2 separate regions of the Homo sapiens genome follow, and region 2 is linked to region 1. The links come from fine-mapping of genetic effects on gene expression. A gene starts in region 1. The other region holds a variant in brackets. All regions are shown on one strand. Distances are from middle to middle.

Region 1 (5,377 bases):
ATTATGTTCATCTGTATTATTATCTGTCTAATGTCTGATCCCCTACCTATTAGACTGGAAATTCCATTAGGGCAGGAATGGTGCCTGGTATATAGTAAGTGTTGTTGGATGAGTGAAATGAATGACTGGCATAAGGATGAAAGGTGTTATGAGCTGAGCTGTGTCCTCCCAAAAAGATATGTTGAGGTCCTGGCTGGGTGCAGTGGCTCACTTCTGTAATCCTAGCACTTTGGGAGGCCGAGGCAGGTGGATCACGAGGTCAGGAGATCGAGACCATCCTGGCTAACATGGTGAAACCCTGTCTCTACTAAAAATACAAAAAAAAAAAAATAGTCGGGTGTGGTGGCTGGCGCCTGTAGTCCCAGCTACTTGGGAGGCTGAGGCAGGAGAATGGCGGGAACCCAGGAGGTGGAGCTTGCAGTGAGCCAAGATCGCGCCACCGCACTCCAGCCTGGACGACAGAGCGAGACTCCATCTCAAAAAAAAAAAAAAAAAAGATATGTTAAGGTCCTCCTATCCCCCAGCATCCCCCAGAATGTGATCTTATTTGAAAATAGGGTCTTGTAGAAGTAAGCAAGTTAAAATAAAGTCATTAGGGTGGGCCCTAATCCAACATGACTGGTGTCCTTATAAAAGGGAAGTTTGGACACAGAGACAGCCATGCACAGAGGGAAGATGACGGGAAGACACACAGGAAGAACACCAAGAATTGCCAGCAAACATCAGAAACTAGAAGAGTCAAAGGATGATTCTCCCCTAGAGCCATGGGGGCTGGAGGGGAGCAAGTGCATGCCAACACTTTGATTTTGGACATCAAGCCTTCAGAACTGTGAGGCAATTTTTGGGTTTGATCCTTTGTTATGGCAGGCAGCCCTAGAAAACTCAACCAAAAGAGAAAATTGTTGTACATGAGGCAGTAATTGCTGAGGACTTTGATTGGAGAAGCCAAGGCACATAAAGGAAGTTGTAGCCAAAGCATATAAAGGAAGTTGTTCTGTTTCCAGGTGGAAACAGAATTACTTAGCAAGCAGAATTCAATGGTGTGGAGTATTGGATCAATCTCCCTAAACACATATTCAGGTAACCGACCTTCATTTTTTGTCCCCTTCTTCTTTCCAAATACCATATTCCACTGATCCTAGAGGCACATCTCACATCTCTGAAATCAGCCTGTTCACTGGTGTCCAGCAAGAGGAAGTGTAAAAAAGTTTCAAAAAAAATCACATGGAGAGACCATCACAGACAACTTCCGGTACACAATATTATATTAACAGTTTAAAAATATGCATATAAATGCATTTCTATCTATATATAACTTCTATCTATGATTATCTATCTATATATAATTCCTTTTTTTTTTGTTTTGTTTTTTTTTTTTTAGTAGAGACAGGGTTTCACTGTGTTAGCCAGGATGGTCTCGATCTCCTGACCTGGTGATTCGCCCGCCTCGGCCTCCCAAAGTGCTGGGATTACAGGCGTGAGCCACCGTGCCCGGCCTATCTATATATAATTCTATGTATTCTATCTATATAGCGATATATAATTTCTATCTGTAATGCAAATCTACATGTGATTTCTATCTATATATACATGTAGATAGAAAATTTAGGGAATTCACTGCAGGTGCTGCTTGCAGTCCACTTTTAAAACCTAACATTACATAATAAAACACTATTTTAAGAAGCTGCACTAGGCCGGGCTTGGTGGCTCACGCCTGTAATCCCAGCACTTTGGGAGGCCAAGTCGGGTGGATCACAAGGTCAGGAGTTTGAGACCAGCCTGGCCAACATGGTGAAACTCCGTCTTTACTAAAAATACAAAAATTAGTCTGGGGTGGTGGCGTGCGCCTGTAGTCCTATTCAGGAGGCTGAGGCAGGAGGATCGCTTGAACCCGGGAGGTGGAGGTTGCAGTGAGCCAAGATCGTGTCAATGCACTCCAGCCTAGGAGACAGAGCGAGACTCCGTTTCAAAAAAAAAAAAAAAAAAAAAAAAAAAAAAAAAGGAGCTGCACGATGCTCCCCTTGGGCGTGTACCATACCTTATTTAACCATTCCCAAACTGTTTCCATTTTTTCTGATGTTAAATAAACTCTAAGATGTACAGACGTCTTTTATCTGGCTCTCCGATTACCTTCTGCAGATAAACTCCTAGAAGTTACTGGGGCAAAGGGAGTGAACCTTTAATTTTTAATAAAATTTTTTAAATTACAGAAAAAGCCGTAGTCGTCAGATTCTACTTCCTAGGCGGTCCACAGGGATTTCAACAAGTTCGATTCAAACCATCCCAAATTCCCTCCCGGCACTAAGTTTTCCTCGGTCTTGGGAAACGTGGCCCCGCAGTCCGCACTCACGACTGCGCACAAACGCTGGCCTCTTTCCAATGGCGAAACTTCTCGACACGCCCCCGAGGCACCACCTCTTTAAAATTTAAAACGAAGGCCCAGGCCAATGAATGCTAAGCTTCTCTCGGACCACAGAGACCCGCCCACCGTCACTCCCTCCACCAATCAGACTGAAGTTTTCTCCACTGCCCCTCCAATCACCGCCAAAAATGGAAGTTGCTCTCGTAACTTACGTAAGGCAAGCAGCCAATAGGAGCAAACCTTGGAAACTAGCTCCCCCAATAGCAGCAGTTCCTGGAGAGCGCGGGAGCCTTTCGACCAGGGTCCCAAAGGAAAGCAGTGAGTGGTGCTGTTTCCCTGAAGGAAGGGACTAAGGGACGGTGGCGCGGGCCCGGACCGGGGCCCCGGGGCGGCGGCACGGCCGATATGGCATGCTGTCACAAAGTAATGCTGCTGCTGGACACCGCGGGCGGCGCCGCCCGCCACAGCCGGGTCCGGCGGGCCGCCCTGCGCCTCCTCACCTATCTGAGTTGCCGATTCGGCCTGGCCAGGGTCCACTGGGCCTTCAAGTTCTTTGACTCGCAGGGGGCGCGGAGCCGGCCGTCCCGCGTGTCTGACTTCCGCGAGCTGGGGTCCCGCTCGTGGGAGGACTTTGAGGAGGAGCTGGAGGCCAGGCTCGAGGATCGCGCCCACCTGCCCGGCCCGGCGCCCAGGGCCACCCACACGCACGGCGCCCTGATGGAGACGCTGCTAGACTACCAGTGGGACCGGCCCGAGATCACGTCGCCCACGAAGCCGATCCTGCGGAGCAGCGGGAGGAGACTGCTGGACGTGGAGAGCGAGGCCAAGGAGGCCGAGGCCGCGCTCGGGGGCTTGGTGAACGCCGTCTTCCTCCTGGCCCCCTGTCCGCACTCGCAGAGGGAGCTGCTGCAGTTCGTGTCTGGGTGCGAGGCCCAGGCCCAGCGCCTGCCGCCCACCCCTAAGCAGGTGATGGAGAAGTTGTTGCCCAAGAGAGTCCGGGAAGTCATGGTCGCCCGAAAAATCACCTTCTACTGGGTGGATACCACCGAATGGTCTAAGGTAAGGAAGGTTACTGTCGTCTCAGATGGCGTGCACGGTGCTTTCCTTGCTAACCAGAACTTGGCAGCGTCCTTAGAACAGCCACAGACCCCGAATGAGACTAATATGACTATGCGTCCCTTCGGAAGGAAACAAATAAATAGGAACAGTTTTCACAACAAAATGGGTAGTTCCTCACTACCTACTGTTTAAGACCCCTCACAATTTGGGCCCTACCTGCCTTCCCAGACTTGATTTTCCTACACACTACATCTACTCTAGCATATTGAAGTCCAGTCCAGAAAATCAACAGGTCTGGACTGCTTGTTTTGTGTTATGTGTGTTGTTCAATCTGCCTGGAATGCCAGTTCTCACTCTTCCAGGCCAGTCTTAACTTCACTTACCCTTTAAGGCTTCTTCTCCCAGTGACAACTGCTCAGTCCAGCGTCTGAATTGCCATACACATTTTGTGTGGCACTTAACCATTTCTCCATATGTTTTGATTATGCACATCTCTCACCCTCCATCTAGTCTAAAAATACCTCAGAGGCAAGCAGCAGGTTTTAACACAATACCCAGGGGTGTGTGTGTATGTGTGTGTGTATATATATATATATATATATATATATATATATATATATACACACACACACATATATATACACATTTATTTATATACATATATATATTTATTTATTATTATTTTTTGAGACAGTGTATGTCGCCCAGGCTGGAATGCAGTGGCTCACTGCAACCTCCACCCCTCCGGGTTCAAGCGATTCTCATGCCTCAGCCTCCCAAGTAGCTGAGACTACAGGCCCACGCCACCATGCCTGGCTAATTTTTTTGTATTTTCAGTGGAGACCAGGTTCCATGCTGCCCAGGCTGGTCTCAAACTCTGGCCTCAGGCAATCCGCCTGCCTTGGCCTCCCGAAGTGCCAGGATTATAGGTGTGAGCCACCACGCCCAGCCACCCAGATGTGTATTAAACGTTGTAGGTGTTCAGTCAGTATTGGCTGACTAAATGAGTACATTCTTGCGTACATTCTTGCAAACTTAAAGTCTTAAATGGCTAATTTGGATTTTTGCTGAGGCGGTGAGGCCCCCTGCTCCTGTTAAGTGCTAGGATAAGTATATACTTTTGCCTTCATCCTTCTCATTGCACTTCATTTAGTCAACAAATGTTCATTGAGAAGCCAGTAACATCTGAGTGCCTACCACACTGTTTGAGCTGCTGGGGACATGGTAACCAAAGCAGGGAACAGATTAAACAGATAAGCAAGTGACAATTTCAAATCATGCTCTGGAGAAAATAAAATGGGGTGAGAGGATGGGAGTAGAAGGTGGTTATTGTATACAGAGTGGTAGTGAGGGAAGGCCTTTTTTTTTTTTTTTTTTTTTTTTTTTGAGACAGAGTCTCGCTTTGTCACCCAGGCTGGAGTGCAGTGGCGTGATCTCGGCTCACTGCAACCTTCACCTCCTGGGTTCAAGCAATTCTCCTGCCTCAGCCTCCCAAGTAGCTGGGATTATAAGCGGGCGCCACCAGGCCTGGCTAATTTTTTTGTATTTTTAGTAGAGACGGAGTTTCACCATGCTACCCACCCTGGTCTCAAACTCCTGAGCTCAGGCAGTCCGCCAACCTCAGCCTCCCAAAGTGCTAGGATTACAGGCATGAGCCACCGTGCCTGGCAGGGAAGGCCTTTTTGAGCAGAGAATTGAATGGTGAAGGAGGAGGAACTCAAAGGTAGGTAAAGAACATTCCAGGTGAGGAGACAAGCAGGTGTAAGGATTTCAGCTGGAAATGAACTTAGTTTGTTTCAGAAACAAAAAGGCAAGGAGTGCTGAGACCTAGTAGGCAAGGGGAGCAGTGTGAGAGAAAGTCAGAAAGCAGGAGAGGCCGATCTGTAGGGCCAAGGTCAAAAATGTGGATTTTGTTCTAATTAATTAATGGGAAGGCTTTGGAATGTGGTTTAACCA
Region 2 (5,377 bases), 47 kb before region 1:
CCCCATCTCTACTAAAAACACAAAAATTAGCTAAGGCGTGGTGGCAGGCACCTGTGGCCCCAGCTATTCGGGAGGCTGAGGCACGGGAATTGCTTGAACCTGGGAGGCAGAGGTTATAGTGAGCTGAGATTGCACCACTACACTCCAGCCTAGGTGACAGAGTAAGACTCTGTCTCAAAAAAAAAAAAAAAAGAATCAAGACACCAAAGTGGGAAAAAGCTTTTAAGTGCAGGTGGCCTCTAGAAGAGGGGGCAAGCAAGGAAACAGATTCTCCCTGAGCCTCTAGAAGGAACACAGCCAACACCTTGATGGTAGCCCAGTGAGACTCATTTTTAATTTCATACCTCCAGAATTGTAAGAGAATAGATTTCTGTTGGTTAAGCCACCGAGTTTGTGGTGATTTGTTACAGCAGCCACAGGAAATGAATATAGGCCCCATTCAGACCTGCTGGGTGGGAGACTCTGCAGGTGGGGTCTGGCGTCCTGTATTTACCAAACTCTTCAGGGGGTTCAGAGGCACGCCAAAGTTTGAGAACCACTGCTCTTAAATGGTGGTTCTTGACCTTCGTGGAACATCACACTCATCCGGGGTGTTTCCAAAAACACTCGTACCCAGCTCTACTCCCAGAAATTCCAATTTGATTGGCTACGGTAAGGTTCAGGCGTTTCATTTGTAAAAGCTCCGTCTACTGTTCTAGTGCTCTGCACTGCCAGAACTGGAAAGCTGGGCTTCCCTTCCCACTTGCTGCTTCCCACTTCTCACTTCTGCCTCTGCTTCCACCTTCTCTTCTCTAGATGTTGGGTCCATCTTAGTCTCCTCTTTCCTTCTTGGCTGAACAGTCGTGAGGCTTCCTCCTGAAATGGCAAGGGATGAGTTTGCCAGTATTTCTAACTAAAGAAAAATTAATTTATAATATGCTATATAATTTTTATTATATGTTAATATAATAAACTCAATACTGTCACAAACCCAATATTCTGGTTCAGGGGACAGATTTAGTCACACACTCCTAGAAGAGAAGGATGTTGGAGAGTGTCTAGCCCCACAACACCCTTTCTAGTTTGGGAAACTGAGGCCCAGAAAGAGAAAGTGACTAGTCCAAGGTTACAGAAGGGAGGCACAGAGCCTGGGACCAAACCCTGGTCTTCTGATCTAAAGCCTGCTGTCCTTTCACCTTCTAACTTTACTCTGGCTCTGTTCCCTGCACTGGAATATAGAGGACTCCAGGCAAGGATCTGGCTCTTAAAAAAAAAAAAAACCAGCCACCCCCTCTCTCCCCATTTCTAGGCAAGGCAGAAGGGGGCCCGTGCAGCAAGCAGGTGCTGGAACCTTCTGGGGATGACCTTGAGCTGGGTCTGGATGGCAGGAATGATTCTGATGACCGATAAGTCTCGATCTTGGGGGAGGAGAGGCAGTCAGCTGAGACTATCGCACCTGGGAAGCAACCAGCCAGGTTGCCACCTGCCCTGGGCAGGACAGCAGCCCAGAGAAAGAGAAGGATGGTGGGGAGGGGTGAGGAGAGGCCAGGCCTGGGCCAAGGGCCTGCAAATAGCCTCCTCCTGACTGCAGGGGCCCTGGGCTAATAGAGGCAGAGAACTGCAGTGAGGTCAGGTCCTCTGGCACCTGGTGCCTGTCTACGCCCTCTCTTAACACGTGCAGGACCGCCGCCTGCCCCCCTCCCCGGCAAGGTTGTACAGCAGAAAGAGGGGTGAGATGGAGGTAGTGAGTGGGTATAGGGAACTCACCCTGGCTGCCTTGTGGCAAGTTTGGGAGAGGCAGTCGTGTGGAGTACTTAAAGGCACAGGCAGTGTTTGGAATCACAGAATCTGTCACTTTCAGCTGTGTGACCTGGAACAAGTCCCTGAGCCTCTCTGGGCCAGTCTCCTCTCCTGTAAAATGGGGATGATTCCTGGTTCTTGTGAGGAGTCTGAGAAAATACATGTACATGTGTGTGCATTTGGGGCTCAGAAAATGGCAGGCAGCAAGCATCATGAAGTGTCCAAACTGCCTGGGTTCACATCCCAGCCCCACCCCTTTCTACCTAGCCGTGACCATGCTGTGTCTATTTCCTCTTCTGGAAAATGGGCTGGCAGTAGCACCTACCTTATAGGAGTCAGTGAATTAACAGATGCAAAATGCTTAGGACAGGGGCCTGGCTCAGTGGGTGCTCCAAACCACCACCTTTAGTTTGGCTTCTGATATCAATGCTGCTGTGTACCCATCGAGGACTCTCATGGCAAGACTGGGAGAGGCAGTAGTGTGAAGTCCTTAAAGTGCTAGGTCCTAGGAGGTCTTCGTACTCACGTAAACATTTATAAGACTAGAGAAAAAAAATTACTGGCTTCAAAATATGAAAGGAAAACTGCAAAGTCAAAATTAGTGACCCTTTTGCTAAATGTCCACAAAACACACTATTACTTCAACTTTATAAACTATGTCTGAAACATGTCATAACACTTGAAATCAATTTATTGGCTAGATTATTCTCCTTCTTCAAGAACTTAAGTGACTAACGATGACTAAAAAATCAGAACAAGCATAACTTATGTAACTCGTAACAAAAGAACTTCACATGCAAAATTACAAAAATTATTTTAATAGATCATTGTAACAATTGAAAAAAAGGCA[A/G]ACACTTTAGATCTCTGTAAGGAATATATATAAAGTTTAAGGAAATAAATGGGAACAATATCCTCCAAATTTAGGGTGGTAGTTATCTCTGCTGTAAGGAGAGTGGATCAGAGAGGCCACACAGGATGTTTCAACCCTCTAGGTAGCATTTTATTTCTTAAGTTAGGTGGTGAATCCCACAGATTTGTACTGTATTATTCTTTGTCTCCTTTTTGTACATATGAAAAATGTTGTAACAAAATTTAAAAGTATGGTTTGGTAGCAAAAAGAAGAGCAAGAAATGTCCCCGGATAATTTCAAATTATTTTATGGCAAATTTGTATTTAATGAGAAATGTTAGGGATTTCACATTCCTACATAATGTCAGGCAGGGTTTCCAAAAGCAAGTCCCCAAGGCCCTGACTCTACCAATGGTCCTCCAGGCCCCAGACCCCTCACCTGGTGTCTTAGCTTGCTCGGGCTGCTATAATGAAAATGGATGGCTTAGCAGAAATTTATTTCTCACAGTTCTGGAGGCGGGAAAGTCCAAGATCAAAACACTGGTGGACTCAGTATCTGGCGAGAGAGGTGAGGGCTAGGAGATGGGGTGGAAGGCTGGACTCAGGGGCAGCCTCAGGATGGAGCAGGCAGCCTAGACCCTTGGCTAATGCCAGTCTCTGCTAAGTTCAACCCTGGGGGAATTTGTCCAATTCTTGGCAGATGCAGTCTCTGTTGTCAAGGGTCTAAAGGTCAGTGGAGAGAGATCCACAAACAGGCATGAAAGAAGGTAAACACACTGATTACCTTAATTTACTGAAAGGCTGTGGCAGGGGTCCCCCATCACCACCCTGTACTGATTTGTGGCCTGTTGGGAACCAGGCTGCACAGCTGGAGGTGAGTGGCAGGCTAGCGAGCATTACCACCTTAGCTCCACCTTCTGTCAGATCAGCTGCGGGATTCAATTCTCACAGGAGCTCCAACCCTGTTGTGAACTGTGCATGTGAGGGATCCAGGTTGCATGCTCCTTATGAGAAACCATACCCGCCGCCCCTACTCCCTCCATGGAAAAATTGTCTTCCACAAAACCAGTTTCTGGTACCAAAAAGTTTGGGGAATTCTAGGCTATGGGAACACATCATTCTTTGTGGGGAATATAGGAAGCATCTCCTTTAAAATCCACATGAGGACAATGCCCACTGTCACCCCTTCTACCTAGCATGGCTGCAGAGGTCAAAGTCAGGTCATAAGACAAGATAATGAAATTAAAGGAGTAAAGTTCAGACAGGAGGAAACAAAATTATAGTGGCAGATTATGCGATCACATTGAAAACCAAAAGAATCAATAAACAAATTATTAGAAACAAAAGAATTAGCAAGATGGCTGACTATACCATCAATAATAATCATTTTAATTTACATTGACTCCCATTATACATACTAATAATAGCAATAGTTAACCTTTCCTTTTTTTTTTTTTTTTTTTTTTGAGACGGAGTCTCGCTCTGTCACTCAGACTGGAGTGTAGTGGCGCAATCTCGGCTCACTGCAACCTCCGCCTCCCAGGTTCAAGCGATTCTCCTGCCCAGCTTCCTGAGTAGCTGGGATTACAGGTGCCCACCACCACGTCCAGCTAATTTTTGTATTCTTGGTAGAGACGGGTTTCACTGTGTTGGCTAGGCTGGTCTTGAACGCCTGACCTCAAGTGATCCACCCGCCTCAGCCTCCCAAAGTGCTGAGATTACAGGCGTGAGCCACTGTGCCCGGCCTAGTTAACCTTTCTTAAATCAACATGCTTTGCACTCACTCTATGCTAAAAGCTTTCTATAGATCAGCTGTGTGCTTTGAACTACCCTGTGGAGTTGGCACTATCATCATCCCCATGTTAAGAAGGAGAAAACTGACAGTCAGAGAGATCAAGCAAATTTCCCATGGCTACATAGCTGGTGTGTGATGGAGGTGGGACCGCTTCCTATTACCTGCTACCTCATCCTGCACACTCCAGTGCACAAATCTCTGATGTCCAGGGTGGGACTCCAGATCTCAGGCCTTTCTCTCATTCTCTGCACATCACGAAAGTTTCCAATATTACTGTGTGAGCAGAGAGAGAGGGAAGGAAGGAAGGAAGGCCCAGTAGGGGCAATGAAACTTCCCTCCAGCCTACTGCAGTCAGACTTAACCTGAACTAAAGAAAATAAGTAAGTGTGATGTTTCTTGCGCACCTGAATTGTGGCTGCAAAGTTTCGCGTAGTGTGTTTCCTTTAATCTTATTCAAGCCTCAAAAGAGCTGTCTCCATTTTACCAATGAGGAAAGTGAAGCTCTGAGAAATTCAGAGACTTGTTCAAAGTCATGGAGATGGAAAGTGGCAGAGGCACTGTTGGATCCTAAGCTCACCGACCAGACATCAAGCCTGTTTAGACTTTTTCAAGGAGCTAGCAGGGAGGCAGACAGGGGCACAGTCATCCATACGGCAGTGTGGTGAGAGTGAGCCCTGGATAGACACCTGTGAGGACAGGAGCAGCTGAGGATTATTATTATGAGACAGGTTTTTAATTATTATTATTATGAGACAGCTTCCTGGAGGAAGTGGCTTTAAGCTGGGTGTTCAAAGATGAGTAGGAAAGAGCCAGGAGAAAAAAGCACTGAAGAAAGCATCAGGTGCAAAGGCCCAGAGTTGATAGAGAAGTGGGAGGTTCTCTCAACAGCCGGTAGCTCAGACAAGGCGGGAAAGAAACTGGCTGAGGAAGTCTTCTGTATCCACTGCTGACCAC

What was found. PIP is the estimated chance that this variant, and not a neighbour inherited with it, causes the effect.
Region 2: its variant is the best candidate, but not a certain one, in a credible set for the expression of TICRR in esophagus muscle (GTEx, PIP 0.83).

What each region holds. Positions count from the first base shown.
Region 1 is chr15:89,572,820-89,578,196 of GRCh38, forward strand. TICRR (TOPBP1 interacting checkpoint and replication regulator) reads left to right here and starts at 2,650. Exons shown (of 22, transcript NM_152259.4): 1 at 2,650-3,421. The coding sequence starts at 2,768. RefSeq lists a silencer at 2,638-2,927 and an enhancer at 3,049-3,577.
Region 2 is chr15:89,525,630-89,531,006 of GRCh38, forward strand. No RefSeq gene overlaps it. Among named protein-coding and RNA genes, the nearest start is that of LINC00928, 4.3 kb to the left of the region's middle. The variant A/G (reference allele first, on the strand shown) is at 2,630.